Linked DNA regions of Homo sapiens: region 1 is linked to region 2. The links come from fine-mapping of genetic effects on gene expression. A gene starts in region 2. The other region holds a variant in brackets. All regions are shown on one strand. Distances are between the middles of the regions.

Region 1 (4,393 bases), 130 kb after region 2:
GTGAGCCACCACGCCCAGCCTTCATCATCAGTTGTTTTGTTTTGTTTTGAGACGGAGTCTGGCTCTGTTGCCCAGGCTGGTATGCAGTGGCTCCATCTGAGCTCATTGCAACCTCCGCCTCCTGGCTTCAAAGGATTCTCCTGCCTCAGCCTCCCGCGTAGCTGGGATTACAGGCACATGCCACCACGCCCGGCTAATTTTTGTATTTTTAGTAGAGACGGGATTTCACCATATTGGTCAGGCTGGTCTGGAACTCCTGACCTCCTGATCTGCCCTCTTTTGCCTCCCAAAGTGCTGTGATTACAGGCTTGAGCCACCGCACCTGGCCCATCACCATTTTTTAATACCTATTTTGGAATTTCTACATTTAAAAAAAATACCAGGAAATTCCGGGGGTGGTGGCTCACGCCTGTAATCCCAGCACTTTGGGAGGCCGAGGCGGGTGGATCACTTGAGGTCAGGAGTTCGAGACCAGCTTGGCCAACATGGTGAAACTTCATCTCTATTAAAAATACAAAAAATTAGCCTGGCGTGGTGGTGTACTCCTGTAGTCTCAGCTACTTGGGAGGGTGAGGCAGGAGAATCACTTGAACCTGGGAGGCAGAGTTTGCAATGAGCCAAGATTGCACCACAGCACTCCAGTCTGGGCAACAGGGCAAGACTCCATCTCTAAAAAAAAAATAAAAAATAAAAAAAAATCTCAGGAGCTTCAAAAAAATGTAATGGCTTAGGTCTTTCTTAGTCTCTGGGATAAGGGCCTTATTATGGTATATTCTACCGCCCCCATCCCGCAGCGTGTAGTACTGAGCATATAGTTGGTGCTTAATGTATACTTATTTCACTGTTAGCTAAGACAGAAGAGAAACTGTGGCTTTAGCCTTAAGATGAACCTTAAAGGAACAAGGCTTATTGGATGACTAACACTTTAATTTCTGGTTATTTCATTGTCACCACATCCAGTCTAAAATTGATACAGTTTCCTTCATTGGCTCACATTGGCTGGCTCCAAAGGGAGAATGAAAGCCAGATAATCAGGACCAAAGATGTGCTTGTGTTGTTTTGTTTTGCTGAAATGATATGGACAATCCTGTCAGTTCTCCCTTTCACTCTCCATTATCTACAGTTCACCCTCATGCTGGAGGCCACACCAGCTACTGGTGATGTAGAGATGCCCAGCAGAGTCCCTGCCCTTGAGGGCCTCATTGTGCAGTGTGGAGAAGAACAAATGAATTACAGGCCCAGGCAAGGCTTTGAAACATAGTAGTCTATCTACGTGTCAGTGTTCCTTGGAGAGGGAATGACTGGATAAGTGGGAAGGGAGGGCCTCCTGGAGGAGGAGTGTGTTCAGGAATGAAATCAAAAGTGAAATTCTCCAAGGGAAGGAGATGAGGAAAGACAGGCAGAAGAAACAGGGCAAGTAAAGATACACACAGAGGCAGGAGTTGGCACTCTTCATGGTAGCCAAGATGACTGCCTGTGATCCCCACTTCCTGTATTCACAGCTTGTGAAATTCCCTGCCATATTTTGTCAGGGTTGGTCTGCATGACCAATAGAATACCACAGAAGTGGTGTTGTGTCACTTCCAAGGCTAGTTCTAAAAGACTGTGTGCAATGCTGCCAAAAAAAAAAAAGGAACTTCACCCAAGATTTTTTCCTGTTTCTTCTATCTTCTATCTCTTTCTTTTTTGGATCATTTGTGCTGAAGGAAGTCACAGGCAGTCCTACAGAGAGACCCACATGATGAGGAACTGAGTCCGCTTGCCAATAGTCACACAAGCAGATTCTTCAAGCCCATCAAGCCTTCAGATACCATGGTCCCCACTGACTGCAACCTCAGCTTTTATTTTTTGACTATGACCTCATGAGAGACCTTGAGCCAGAGCCACCAGCTAAGCCCCTGCTGAATTGAACTCTCATAATCTGCATGAGATAGTAAATGCTTGTCTTAGCTGCTGAGTTTTAGAATAATTTGTTACACAGCAATAGATCACTTATACAGTGTGTGTGTGCAAGAAAATGTAAGTAGTTTGGTTTGTTGAGTGCCTAAGTTTGGTGAAATACAGGCCCAGTGGAAGGGGCTGGGAAGCACCTGGGTTATCCATCTCAGGCCCCATGCCTCAATTGAAGTAGTCGGTTACAGAGGACTTCATTGTTTGCCTTTTCTTCTTATCCTAAGAAACGTTTGGGGACCCACTTCTCCCCTACTCTCAGACCCTGCTATTTGGCTGGGACTCTCCCCTGGTGCCAGGAATGAAAGCTGTGACTCAGGCACAGGCCACTGTGATTGGTTGAGGGATGGAGACATGACTCAACGGATCCAATCACAGTGAGTCTCAGGTTTTAGAGGAAGCTTCCAAATAAGCCTTCTGGGCTTTCCCATGGACTTGAACTGGGAGGGGAGGAAAGGCTGGAGCTGTGTCTGCCACTTTTTTTTTTTTTTTTTTTTTTTTTGAGATGGAGTCTCGCTCTGTCACCCAGGCTGGAGTGCAGTGGTGCCATTTCGGCTCACTGCAACCTCCCTCCCAGGTACAAGTGATTCTCCTGTCTCAGCCTCCCGAGTAGCTGGGATTACAGGTGCACGCCACCATTCCCAGCTAATTTTTTGTATTTTGGTAGAGACAGGGTTTCACCGTTTTATCCAGGCTGGTCTCCAACTCCTGAGCTCAGAGAATCCACCCACCTCGGCCTCCCAAAGTGCTAGAATTACAGGCGTGAGCCACTGCGCCCGGCCCTCAGCCACCTTTATACAATGAGAGCAGAGCCTGGGTCGGGAGCGGTGGCCCA[C/T]GCCTGTAATCCCAGTACTTTGGGAGGCCGAGGCGGGCGGATCACGAGGTCAGGAGATCCAGACCATCCTGGCTAACACGGTGAAACCCCGTCTCTACTAAAAAAAAAAAATACAAAAAAAAAAAGAGGAAAAAAAAAAAAAAGCCGGGCGTGGTGGCGGGCGCCTGCAGTCCCAGCAACTTGGGAGGCTGAGGCAGGAGAATGGCGTGAACCCGGGAGGCGGAGCTTGCAGTGAGCCGAGATCGCACGACTGCACTCCAGCCTGGGCGACAGAGCGAGACTGTGTCTCAAAAAAAAAAAAAAAAACAACAGAGCCTGGAGTTCACAGGGCCCGAGAATGGATTCCGCGGGGTCCTTCAACCTCTGTTGAGCACTGAAACCAGCCAGACCTCCAACAGCCAGACCTGGGCTTTTCAGTTCCATGCAGATTACATTCCCCCTTTTTGTACTTAAAACAATTAAGTTAGTTTTTCTATCGCCGATAGCAGAGCCCTAATAGATGCCCCGGCCGTTAGCTGTTGATTTTCTCTCCGGAAACTGAATATTGACATTCAGTGAAGCTCATGTCTTCTCCTTCTGAAGAGCGTTCCCTTCAGACCACATGTGGAAATCACTGGGAGTTATGCACACGCTTTCAGGAGGAGGGAGTCTATGAACTGAAGGAGTGTTCCGAGCCCCAAAGACCAATGGGTGTAAAAGGCTGCCCACTGCCTTTAGTCTTTCTTCCGCTATTCATTCCTCAGGTGGCTTGCTTTGCCCCACAGCCTCTGAGGCTGTTGTGGATTCACAGGGGTTCACGTTGGAGAGGCTTCATCAGACCAGATTCAGTACATTGTGAGAACTCTGGAATTATTATTTTTATTTTATTATTACTATATTTTATCTGACTAGAAGCCATTTATTACCAAACCAATTTATTTCTTAGAGTTGAAAACCGTCTGTGAGAAGCTTCTCTGGCCTGGATGGAGATCCAGCTCTTTTTTTTTTTTTTTGAGACAGAGTCTTGTTCTGTCGCCAGGCAGGAGTGCAGTGGCACGATCTCTGCTTACTGCAACCTCCACCTCCTGGGTTCAAGCAATTCTCCTGCCTCAGCCTCCCGAGTAGCTGGGACTACAGTCGCACATTTCCACGCCCGGATAATTTTTTGTTCGTTTGTTTGTTTGCGTTTTAGTAGAGATGGGGTTTCACCATGTTGCCCAGGCTGGTCTCGAACTCCTGAGCTCAGGTAATCTGCCCGCCTCGGCCTCCCAAAGTGTTAGGATTACAGGTGTGAGCCACCGCGCCCGGCTGGTTTTTTGTTTGTTTGTTTGTTTGTTTGAGACGGAGTCTCGCTCTGTCACCCAGGCTGGAGTGCAGTGGCGCGATCTTGGCTCACCGCAAACTCCGCCTCCCGAGTTCAAGTGATTCTCCTGCCCCAGCCTCCCAAGTAGCTGGGACTACAGGCATCCGCCATCACGCCTGGCTAATTTTTTGTATTTTTAGTAGAGACAGGGTTTCACCATGTTAGCCAGGATGGTCTCGATCTCTTGACCTCGTGATCCGCCTGCCTCGACCTCCCAAAGTGCTGGGATTACAGGTGTCAGCCACCATACCTGGCAGGTAGTTTAT
Region 2 (4,393 bases):
ATGGCATAGTCGTACAACGGAATACTATACAGTTCTACGAAAGGAGGAAGAGGCTCTATGTACTGATATGGAAAAATCTCCACTGATTATGTACGCTGTGCAGAACAGTACGTTATGTTATCTTTTCTACAAAAAGGAGAAAATAATATATATGTATTTACTTGTGTATATTTAAAGAAATTCTGGAAAGATGTATACAAATTTGATAACAGTGGCCAGGTTTTGAGGTTTTAAAAAATGTTTCTGCTTTTTGTTTTGAAGAGGCGGGAACTAAATTGACAGGAGACTGAGACTTTTCACTTTACGCTTTTAAAATATTTGAACATAATAACGTTCAGATCGTGAATGTATTCCATAAAGAATGAGATAAGCTGAATTTTAAAAATAAGTGGCATGGGCTGGGCGCGGTGGCTCTCGCCCGTAATCCCAGCACTTTGGGAGGCCGAGGCGGGTGGATTGCCTGAGCTCAGAAGTTCGAGACCAGCCTGGGCAACAGGGTGAAACCCCGTCGCTACTAAAACACAAAAAATCAGCTGGGCGTGGCAGCGTGCGCCTGTATAATCCCAGCTACTCCGGAGGCTGAGACAGGAGAATCGCTTGAACACGGGAGGTGGAGGTTGCAGTGAGCCAAGAGCATGCCACTGCACTCCAGCCTGGGTGACAGAGCAAGACTCCGTCTCAAAAAAAAAAAAAAAAAAGACGTGTAATTTTTATGAGCATGAATTGCATGGATCAAATGTGTTATGAGTTAAAATGCAATATTCAAGACACTGAAAACAAAATTTCCAGTATACTTCCAAATTCCTGAGAAAAATTTCAAAAGTTCTAAATAATTGGAAGTATATACCATGCTCATTCATTGGAAGACTCAATATTTTTATAGCAAAGTAAAAAAAGAACATACAGCTATACATACATAACATGGAAAGATCTCACAGATAAAATGTTGGTCAAAAGAAGGCAGACAAAAGCGTAGGTACTGAATTATTATTTATATGAAAGTCAAGAACAGTTAAACTAATTTATAGTGATAGAGATGAACCCAAGCAATGACCTTTGTAAAGTATTGCCTGGGAAGGACCATAAGGAAGCCCTTCTGGGGTGTCGATAATATCCAGCCCCCACCCACCCCCTGCAGCCTCGACTGCAGTGAACTATGCTCAAAGGATCCTTCCGGCTCAACCTCTCCTTACTCCAGCATTTTGAAGTTTAGTCGAGCATGGTGTCGCGCACCTGTATTCCCAGCTGCTGGGGAGGTTAAGGCAGAGGACTGCTTGAACTATGATGGCGCCACTGCACTCCAGCCTGGGCGACAGAGCAAGACCCTGCCTCAAAACAAAACAAAAAATTCTTTATTTTGATCTGGGTGGTAGTTTCATGAGTGTATGCATGTGCAAAAATTCATAGAATGTGTTTGGTGCACTTATATTGTGCATGTTATGTATCTCGAGTTTTTAAGCAATGAGAAACCATTGTAAGATTAAAAGGTGAATGACATGATCCGATTTATGTTTTAAAAATAGATTTTTACCAGGAACGGAAGCCAGAAGACCAGTTAAAAGGCTATCGCATGGCTGGCCAGGCGTGCACGCCTGTAATTCCAGCTACGTGGAAGGCTGAGAGGCAGGAGAATCGCTTGAACCCGGGAGGCGGAGGTTGCAGTGAGCCGAGATCGCCCCACTGCACTCCAGCCTGGGCAACAAGAGAGAAACTCCGTCTCAAAAAAATAAAAAATAAAATAATAATAATTAAAAAAAAAGGTATCGCATGGTGCTAGGTAGAAGGGACGGTGGAAAGGGGGCAGAAGAGGACGCATTGGACAGAGGTGTGGGAGCAGAATCTGCAGGGTATAGAGAGCTAGAGGGAAGTGTCAAAAATAACTTTTGGGGTTTCCACCATAGGAAATGGAAGACGAGCAGCACAAGACTGGCAGGAAAGAAAATGAAGACTAAAACTTGTGGAAGTAGAGATTTGGGGAAAGAGCAGTTGGGAGAGAGCTAAGGAATTTCCTTAAGTGGGAGGCGAGGTCCGGCGGGAACAGTTGAGGCAGGGCCTGAGAAGGGTGCCCAGTGAGTGCGAGTATGAATGGATAGGGGCATCCGGGATTAAGAGGAGAGGCTGGAGTTTCCCCAGGAGTGGTGAAGTGCCTCGAAGGAGGCGGGAGATCCCTAAGGAATACTCTTGGCGATCGGGGCAGAATCGCAGGCACTAACAGTAGGCATCGGGATAAGACTGGCAGGACTAAGATGCCAGCCAGGCTCCGCCCCGGAGGCTTGGAAGTGCGGGACACCGAGAGCAGGGATGCCGGGACAGCCGGCCCGATCCCCGGTGCGGAACCAATTGTGACGACGGCTAGGTTACCCGCCGGCGCTACAAAGGTGCCACACCGGAGGGGCGGCGTGCGCCGGCGTGCGCCGGCGTGACGCGGCTACGCGGGATGGGCCGGGCCAGGGCCAAGGCCGAGGCGGCAGCGGCTGCGAGAGGCGGCGGCACGACGACGGTCCCTCAGCCCAGCCACCATGAGCACCAAGCAGATCACTTGCAGGTCAGTGCGCTGGAGCCAGGAGCTTCGGGCCGCTCCCCCAGGCCGCAGGGGGGCCGGTGCGCGCCAGTGCTGTGGTCCGGGAACCTGAGGCTAGAGCGGGACTCGGAAAGTTACTCGGCTGTTCGCGGCGGGGCTTTGCGAGGCAGAGCGAGCGCTGCCGCCACAGCCGGGGATCCGGGGGATGCGTGGCCGAGACGCTGGGCGAGGCCAGCGCGGGGGGCTACGCCCCGAGTTTGAAGCGTGGCCCCTGTGGGCTGGGAGGAAGGACGTCCTAGCCAGGGCCGTGCAGGATGCCGGGGCGCTGTCGGGAAGGCTCTGGGGCTTACGCTTTAACTGGAAAAGATTTGAAGTTGAGTAAAGGGACGCCGAGAGGACGGTTACAAATGGGGATACCACATAGGAGTAATTTGTTAATCGATTATGAGGGCCTCAAAGTTTGGAGAATCCAGATGCAATCTAAACTTGCAGAGAGTTAACAAGTAAAAGTTGTTGTGTGGAAAATAACGACAGGTAGCATATTGTGAATATCGGCGAAGCGCCCTGCATATTTCCAAGTCCTTTATATTCATTATCATCAGACTTCACAGTAAGACAACTTAGTAGTTATTATTACCATTTTACAGTGCAGGAAACTGAGACCGAAAGACGTTGACACTCATTTATCTTACTGAGAGAGCCATTTACGAGGAGAAATGCGACGGTAATGGATGGTTTATTGTAGAAAATAGCCAGATAGCTACACTACGACTGCTCCTATGAAATAGAATAGTGTGGTTGTGTAACACCCTCATTGCTTGGTCAGCTTGTGGCTTACTGGTAATGGAGTCTAGTCCTATTGAATTGTATGTTTGGAAAACGCAAATTGAATTGTATGCTTGGAAAATGCAAATTTCATTTAATAATTTTTATGGGAAACATTGCTTAAAAACAGTTATAGAGTTTGTGTAATAAACAGTTTATTTTCTATGTTGTTACTTCTCTTCATTGGTATGAATAGTTGAGACGTGACTGTGTAGTAAGTTTTCTGTTAGCATTAGTGTACATTTACTGTTCAATTTATCCAAGGCCCAGGTGGCTTATGTTAAGCTGTTGTCAGAAATTTGCACCTAGTGTCTATAAAAAGACTTTTACTAGGTTATTTGTACTAGAAGGTGTTTTGTGAAGACGGGTTTGTGTGTGTTTACGTATTTTTATTTGTATAAAGTTTCTCCTGCTGGAGGAAGTATTCCTAGGTCATTGTGCACTGTAAAGCAGCTTGTAGCCTCCTAGAAAAACCTCTGTATTCCTCCCCTCGCTCTATGGTTTAATTCTACCATTTATTCCCGTACCTCATCTAAGAAGTGTCCACAAAACAGTACACATTTATGTAATAATGCTTTATAATTGAATCTCAACTCTGTAGTATCTTATTTTACAAATAAGGAATCTTATGCTCAGAAAGACTTGAAATTTGCCTAAAATTTTACACCTTAGTAGAGGCACAAGGACCTAAATCAGGATCATCTTGGTTTTTTCCTTGTATACCTGGAGATAGCTTGACTTGAAAGCTTTAATTCTGTTTCCCAAACAGGGGTGTTCTGTAGGATGTTGCTCCATATAAATGAAGATTGGGTTGGAATGTTGAGAAGGGATCACTTCTGTTTAAGTGTTTAGTCATGTTTGTTGGGGACTTACAATGTGCTGCGGCTCTTAGGTACTGTAGTGTATAATCCAGCAACCAGCGCTCTTCCACAGATCGTAAAACTGAGCCTCAGCATTGAAGCGACTTGCCTAAGGTCATTTAGCTTCCAAGTGACAGAGGTGTGAAATCAAAGTTCATGCCCTCATAGACTGTAGGGCCTCCAGATA

The links. PIP is the estimated chance that this variant, and not a neighbour inherited with it, causes the effect. A credible set is the group of variants that fine-mapping cannot tell apart.
Region 1: its variant is the best candidate, but not a certain one, in a credible set for the expression of MKRN2 in tibial artery (GTEx, PIP 0.56).

What each region holds. Positions count from the first base shown.
Region 1 is chr3:12,680,489-12,684,881 of GRCh38, forward strand. No RefSeq gene overlaps it. Among named protein-coding and RNA genes, the nearest start is that of RAF1, 19 kb to the left of the region's middle. The variant C/T (reference allele first, on the strand shown) is at 2,786.
Region 2 is chr3:12,554,632-12,559,024 of GRCh38, forward strand. It overlaps MKRN2 (makorin ring finger protein 2), which reads left to right and starts at 2,456. Exons shown (of 8, transcript NM_014160.5): 1 at 2,456-2,545. The coding sequence starts at 2,520. It also overlaps a transcript of MKRN2OS not described here. RefSeq lists enhancers at 2,076-2,185, 2,236-2,295, 2,683-3,206, 3,116-3,175 and a silencer at 2,466-2,555.